2 linked regions of the Homo sapiens genome follow. The protein of the gene in region 1 purifies or fractionates together with the protein of each later gene. This does not show direct contact. Each region holds a gene or a part of one and is shown on either strand. Other genes may lie near its edges.

Region 1 (3,823 bases):
GTCACTTCCTTTTTACCACGCCTAATCTTTGCTGGGAGCAGACTGGAGCAAAGGTCCCAATAAAACCCCAATGGCAGGCCCGGCGGGGTGGCTCACGCCTATAATCTCAGCACTTCGGGAGGCCGAGGTGGGTGGATCACATGAGGTCAGGAGTTCGAGACAAGGCTGACCGACATGGTGAAACCCTGTCTCTATTAAAAATACAAAAATTAGCCGGGTGTGGTGGTGAGCACCTATAATCCCAGCTACTTGGAAAGCTGAGGCAGGAGAATCACTTGAACCCAGGAGACGGAGGTTGCAGTGAGCAGAGATCGCGCCACTGCACTCCAGCCTGGGCGACAGGGTGAGACTCTGTCTAAAAACAAAACACACAAAAAACCCAAGGGCAGTGGCAGCAGCCCTGTGACCCATGGGGTGTGATGGTGGGCCTACCCGGGCTGGCCTCTTTTGGCCCTATAATGACAGTGGACAAGCCCTGAAGAGCCTTGCTTAGGCTGGTGCCTGCCTCTCCCTTTGCTCTGGCAGCGTGGACGGGGGTGAGCTCTTCGACCGGATCACAGATGAGAAGTACCACCTGACTGAGCTGGATGTGGTCCTGTTCACCAGGCAGATCTGTGAGGGTGTGCATTACCTGCACCAGCACTACATCCTGCACCTGGACCTCAAGGTGGGTTCTGCCCTGGGCATGCGGTAGGGGCCCCTGGTGTCCTAGCTCCTGGCGTGCTCTCACCATTGAGAGCTCTATCCACAGACAGTCCCAGCTTCCATTCCTGGCTCTCTGTCATTTTGTAGTTCTGGAGTCTGGGACAGGCCACTCTTGCTGCCTCTTGGGGCTGTAGTTCTTCCATCTGGATAATGGTACCTCTTTAAGTATTATTTGAAGATTAAGTGAAACAATGAGCTTTTCTTCTTTAAAAATATCTTTAAGATTACTTTTTTTAAAAGTTCAAAAGGGAACATAGGCTTTTGGTAACAACTATAGACAACAGAGTAGTGTGTAAAATACACAGTGAAAGTTCCTCCCGCCAGCCCTCCGTGCGGAAGGGACTTCTCTGTGAGCAAGCTGGCATGACTCACAGACACACAAAAGGAGATCCTACGATGCATTCTTCCCTCCCTCCCTCCCCCTCTCTCTCTTTCTTTTCTTTCTTTCTCTCTCTCTTTCTTTTCTTTCTTTCTTTCTTTCTTTCTTTCTTTCTTTCTTTCTTTCTTTCTTTCTTTCTTTCTCTTTCTTTCTTTTTCTTTCTTCTTTCTTTCTTTCTCTCACTTTCTTTTTCTTTCTCTTTCTCTTTTCTCTCTCTCTCTCTCTTCTCTCCTCTCTCCTCTCTTTCTTTTTTGGAGACAGGGCCTCTCTCTGTTGCCCAGGCTGGAGTGCAGTGGTGCCATCATATCTCACTGCAGCCTGGACCTCCCAGGCTTAAGTGATCCTCAGTCTCCCAAGTAGCTAGGACTACAGGCACGTGCCACCACACTTGGCTAATTTTTGTATTTTGTATAGAGACAAGGTTTCACCATGTTGCCCAGGCTGGTCTTGAACTCCTGGACTCAAGCAATCCTGCCTCAGCCTCCCAAAGTGCTGGGATTACAGGCATGAGCCACCACACCTAGCCCAGATGGCTGCAAATGCCATTAATTCATTCCTTTTTATGGCTGAGTAGTATATGGTACTGGCATAATAATAGGCGCTGAGTGGTATATGGTACTGGCATAAAAATAGGCACATAGACCAATGGAACATAATCGAGAACCCAGAAATAAACCCTAATACTTACAGCCAACTGACTGACAAAGCAAACAAAAACAAGTGAAGAAATGACACCCTATTCAACAAATGGTGCTGGGATAATTGGCAAGCCACATGTAAGAGAATGAAACTGGATCCTCATCTCTCACCTTATACAAAAATCAACTCAAGATGGATCAAGGACTTAAATCTAAGGCCTGAAACTAAAAATTGTAGAAGATAACATTGGAAAAAATCCTTCTAGACATTGGCTTAGGCAAGGATTTCATGAGCAAGAACCCAAAAGCAAATGCAATAAAAACCAAATGTTTGAAGAAGAATTAACACCTTTACAAATTCTTCCAAAAATAGAAGAGGAGAGAACACTTGCTTCTCATTTTATGAGGCTAATCTTATCCTGATACCAAAATCAAAGACATCACAAGGAAAGAGGGCTACAGACCAAAATCCCTTATGGATATAGATGCAAAAATTCTCAATAAAGTATTAGCAAACTGAATAAAACATATAAAAAGGATTATATTCATGACAAAGTGGAATTTATCCCAAGAATGCAAGGTTGGTTTAACATATGAAAATCAACCAACGTAATGGGCCATATTAATAGAATAAAGGATGAAATCATGTAATCATTTTAATAGATGAGAAAAAATAATTGACAAAATCCAAAAACTTTTCATGATGAAAATAATAAACAAATGAGGAACAGAACTTCCTCAACCTGATAACGGCCATTTGTGAAAAACCCACAGCTGACACTATAGTTTGTAGTAGGAGACTGAATGTTTTCTCCTTAAAATCAGGAATAAGACAAGGATATCTGTTCTTGCAACTTGTATTAAACATTTTACTGGAGGCTATCACTAGGGCAATTAGGCAAGAAAATAAAAGGCATTCAGATTGGGAAGGAAGTAAAACTGTCTCTATTTGCAAATGACACGCTCTTGTATATAAAAACTCTTAAAGAGAGGAGACTATTAGGATTAATAAATTCATCAAGGTTGCAGTATACAAGACAAATATACAAAAATCAATTGTATTTCTAAATACTGGGACTGAACAATCTGTAAATAAAATCAAGAAAATAATTTCATTTATGACAATATCAAAAGAAAAAATACACTTAGAAATATACTTAGAAAAAAATTAACAAAATAAGTGCAAGACATTCTCTGAAAACTACAACAAAATGTTAAGATAATTCAAAGACCTAAATAAATGGAAAGGCATGCCATGGTCATGGATTGGAAAATTTAATATTGTTAAGGTGACAATACTCCCCCATTGATCTATAGATTCAACATAATCCTTATCAAAGTCATAGCTGGCTTCTTTCCAGATATTAATGAAATCCTAAAATTCAGATGGGAATTCAAGGGACCTAGAATAACAAAAACAATCTTGAAAAAGAACGAATTTGGAGGACTAACTTTTCCCAATTTTGAAACTTTCTACAATGCTACAGAAACCAAAACAACGTATTACTAATGTAAGGTTAGATATGTGCATCAAATTAATACACTTGAGAGTCTAGACATAAACCATTACATTTATGGTCAATTGATTTGTGACAATGGTGCTATGACAATTCAGTAGAAAATTATAGTCTTTTCAACAATTGTGCTGGGACCCCATGCTAGGGAGCTACATGTGAAAGAACGAAGTTGGACCCTTACCTCACACCATATACAAAAATTAATTCAAAATGGATTGTAGACGTAAATGTAAGAGCTAAAACTATAAAATTGTTAGAAGAAAACATAGTAATAAATCCTTATGACCTTGGATTAGGCAATGGTTTCTTAGATATGACACTAAAAATATAATTAAAAAAAGATAAATTAGACTTCATCAAAATGAAAAAAATCTCATACTTCAAAGGATACCATGAGAAAAGTAAAATAATAGCTCACAGAATGGGAGAAAATATTTCCAAATCATATATCAGATAAAGGATTTGTATCTACAACATATAACAAACTCTTATAACTCAACAATAGAAAGAAATAACCCAATTTAAAAATGGTCAAAGGATTTGAATAGATATTTATCCAATGAAAACATACAATTGCCACTAAG
Region 2 (4,254 bases), on another chromosome or scaffold:
AAAATTAATACTTGATTTTATTAAGGTGGTTTATCACAACAAATACCAACAAGAAGAGAAAAAAATCTCAGGAAAATCAACAGCATGCATGGATTTGGAATGACACTATGTAAATAAATGCAATGAAATAAAATTGACTTTTCAACACTTGGACAGCATGAAGTTCAACAGACAAATCCATTAAAAAGGGAAATAAAAGCTCAATCTCAAGGTGAAATTTTTGTCCATGACACTCTCGAATTCTAGATCTGAAAAAGTTTGGGATAAATGGCAGAAAACAACGCGTCATCACGAGATCTCTAATTTAATCCAAAGCTATTCCGGAAGGCAGCAGTTTTCCCTATTTCTTCACCAGCGCCCTGGGGCAAAAGGTTAGGAATAATCGGCTTCAGGAACTTGAACTCGCCGGCCCCTGAGTCTCCGGTCAAACACACCTCGTAGTGGTAGCTCTGGGATAGGGTCCCGGTGCCGCTCACGTCCACCAGATGCCCTGGAAAGGGGCCCTCGGGCACCGAGCAGCGACCGACCGGGGCCGCCCTGCTCCTCCTGCACAGCCGCACTGCCACGAACAGGAGCACCGAAAAGAGGAAGAGCGACGACACCGAGGCCAATGCCACCACCAGGTAGACAGTGAGCGAGTCGGCCTGGGCCTGGGCCGGGGCCGCCTCCGGCAGCGGCAGGTAGGGCTGGGAGAAGCCGTCCACCAGGAGCACGTGCAGCGTGGCGGTGGCCGAGCGCGGAGGCTCGCCATTGTCCTTGACCAGCACCACCAGCCTGTGCTTGGCCGCGTCGCGCTCGCTCAGCAGCCTGGCGGTGCGCACCTCGCCATTGTGCGCCCACATGCTGAACAGCCCGGGCTCCGTGGCCTTGAGCAGCTGGTACGACAGCCAGGCGTTCTGGCCCGAGTCACCGTCCACCGCCACCACCTTGGTCACCAGGTAGCCCGGCTCGGCCGCCCGGGGCACCAGCTCGGTGCAAGGCGCCGAGCCGTTCTGCAGCGGATACAGCACGAAGGGCGAGTTGTCGTTGGCGTCCAGCACCAGCACGCGCACCAGCGCCTCGCTGCTCAGCGCCGGGGAGCCGCGGTCTGTGGCTCCCACGCGGAACTCGAACGCCTGCAGGGCCTCGTAGTCCAGCGACCTGAGGGCAAACAGGTGGCCGTTGTCCGCGTTGATGGAGACCAGGGAGGCGAGGCGCAGGTGTGGGTTCTGGGGCGGCAGCAGCGAGTAGGTGACCTGGGCGTTGGTGCCTGAGTCTCTGTCTGTGGCGCTGACACTGCCGATGTGCAGGGCGGGGCTGTTGTTCTCTCGGACGAACAGGGTGTAGGAGGTTTGGGTGAAGGCGGGGGCGTTGTCATTGACGTCGGAGACCAGGACCGTTATGTTGTGCTCGGTTTTCAGCCTGGGTGTCCCCATGTCGGTGACAGTGATGGTGATGTTGTACTCGGCTTGGCTCTCTCTGTCCAGTGTTCTCTGTGTCACTAGGGTGTAAAAGTTTTTTAATGTGGGCTTCAAAAGAAAGGGGAGATCATTCTGGATGGAGCAAATCATCCTACCGTTGTCCCCGGAGTCTGGATCAGAAACACTGAAAACGGCAACTACAGTTTCCGGGGCATTTTCTGGGGTAGGGCTGGAGAGCGTAGACATGGTGAGTTCAGGGGCGTTGTCATTCACATCCACCACTTCTATAGCCACAGTGCATTTTCCTGAAAGGCCCCCACCATCTGTGGCTACAATTTCCACGTTATAATATGGAGTTGCCTCGAAATCCAATGCCCTTTTCAGGCGAATTTCTGCTGTTTTCTCGTCTATTACAAATGGTTGAGTAACTTCATCGCCTTGGAATAGAGCATAGGCTACACTCCCATATGCTCCTGCATCTAAATCTCGAGCGGAGACAACGACAACTAAGGAGTTAAGGGGGCTGTTCTCGGGCACCTGTACCTCATAGAATGATTGTAAAAATTCGGGGGCGTTGTCATTATTATCCAAGACGACAATGCGAATTGTGGTGGTCCCGGACCTGGGCGGAGCCCCACCGTCCAGTGCAGTGAGTGTTAAGCTGAGCTCAGGCCGCTCCTCCCGGTCCAGCGCTTTGTCCAGCACCAGCTCTGGGTATTTTCTGCCATCTCCGCGATTATGCGTAGCAACATGAAAGTGTGAATTTGGGCTGATTGTGTAGTTCTGAACAGTGTTGCTACCTATGTCAAAGTCCTGGGCTATTTTTAAGGGAAACACAGTCCCTGGCTGGGTGCTCTCTGGGATTTTTAGGAGCATTTCCTTCTCTGGGAACTCTGGGGCATGGTCATTTATATCTGTGAGCTGCAGATCAGTTTGAAAAAACTGCACTGGATTTTCTAGTAAGAGCTGGAAATGCAATATACAGGGTTCTGTCGCCCCGCACATCACCTCCCGGTCTAGTTTTTCATATAGAAGCAAATTGCCGGTCTTTATATCAAGCTGCAAGAGCTCTTTGTTTCCTTTGTAATGCATTCGCGCGCCCCGAGTGGCCAGTTCCCCCACCCCAAGACCCAGGTCTTTTGCCAGGTTGGCCACAGAATAGCCACTTTCTGTTTCTTCTGGTATGGAATACCTAACTGCCTCAGAGCCAGCCTCCCACAAAAGCAACAATATAGCAAGAAACATAACTTGCCTTTTCTGTGGCGTTTTTGCTAGCGCAGTCTCCATTGTTCAGACCCGGTCCAGAAGGCGCAGTTTAACTCCGTACACAATCCACCCAGATGATTTGCATAAATAACCGCGAATCCGATCTTTCTTGACTGATTTCCACAAGAACGAAGCCCACCCTGAAGATCTAGCCACTAGATCTTACCTAAAATGCGTCCTTCTTTTAGAGTTTGGATTCCCCAGCTTAATGGCGTCTGAGTTATCCGCAGAGCCCACTATCCACACTCTTAGCCTGCAGCGCCACCAGGCGTCCTAATTTACTATTGCATATAGTATTTGCCATTTCATCCTAAATTCTAACTGACGTGTATCCATACCCTTTTGTCACATAAGCTCTCCCGATGGTATCTCCAGCTCTTAGTTGCTGAAAGTTCTAAATAAATGTTGTGGAGTTAATTTTCAGTGAGAAAATACTTTTGAGAAAAAAACTAAAATTATATATTAATCTCCATAAAAGTACCCTTGAGTACACAAATACACTTTGTTTGGTGTTTCTTATTTGATTATATTAAATAAGTGATCAGGAATATCTATAGAAATTTAAAGTTTAAGAAAAATTACTTTCACTTTGAAGTAAACACCAATAACACCCAGAAAATGGCACAAATCATAGGTGTATAACTCAATGAATTTTCGCAAAGTGAACACACTCCTGTAAGTAGAACCTAGATTAAAAATACTACCCAAACCCAAGTCCCCACCTGCTATTGTCTGGTTACCACCCTCTCCCCAAAAGATAAGCACTGTCCTGACTTCTGTTGTCATAGGTTTTTTTTGCTTTTTTTTTTTTTAACTTTATACAAATGGAGTTATAGATTGTTACTCTCGTGTGTCTGGCTTCTTCTCCTCAATATTATGTTCAGCAAATTGATCTGTGGCATCTTGTTCTTATTTGTTTTATTCTCATTGCTTTATATCATTCTGTTGTATGAATATACTATGATTTATTTATTCATTCTCCAGTTGATGAACATTGTTTTCCAGGTTTAAGCTCTTTGGGGTAGTACTGGTATAAACATCCTTGTACTAGTCTTTTGGTGACCACATATATGTGTTTATGTTGAATATATTCAAAGGAGTTGGATTGCTATGCATTAAGATGTGCACATATATTTTGCTTTAGCAGATAATGAGAAAGTTTTCTCAAGTAGTCGTACTAATACCAGCAAAGTATGAGAGTTCCAGTTGCTCCACATTCTTGTCAACATTTGATGCTATCTTTTCCATTTTAAACCACTCTGGTTAGTGTATGGTGATATGATATTGTAATTTTAGTTAGCATTTTCCCTGATGATTAAACAATTTGAGCACATTTTCATGTTTATCAGCCATTAGGATACAATCTTGTGAAGGGCTTATGCAAACCTTTTTACTTTTTTGGGGGGAGGCATTTGCCTGTTTGCTTATTGATCTGCAGAAGTTTCTCATATATTCTGGGCATAAGTCCTTTTTAAGATATATGTATTGCAAATATCTTTTCCCACTCTATGGTTTTTATTTCAAGTCTATTATGTGTCTTTGATGAATAAAATTTCTTACCTTTAGTCAGATTTGTCAATAAGTTTCA

Evidence for each region.
Region 2: the proteins of MYLK3 (region 1) and PCDHB5 purify together in Homo sapiens (affinity purification with mass spectrometry; one large-scale study listed by BioGRID and IntAct). This does not show direct contact.

Annotation. Positions count from the first base shown.
Region 1 is NC_000016.10:46,724,080-46,727,902, reverse strand, and holds part of MYLK3 (myosin light chain kinase 3), read left to right. Parts: intron 1-525; coding exon 526-667; intron 668-3,823. UniProt on the Homo sapiens protein: Kinase that phosphorylates MYL2 in vitro. Promotes sarcomere formation in cardiomyocytes and increases cardiomyocyte contractility.
Region 2 is NC_000005.10:141,133,868-141,138,121, reverse strand, and holds the start of PCDHB5 (protocadherin beta-5 precursor), read right to left. Parts: upstream 2,917-4,254; 5' UTR 2,688-2,916; coding exon 300-2,687; 3' UTR 1-299. UniProt on the Homo sapiens protein: Potential calcium-dependent cell-adhesion protein. May be involved in the establishment and maintenance of specific neuronal connections in the brain.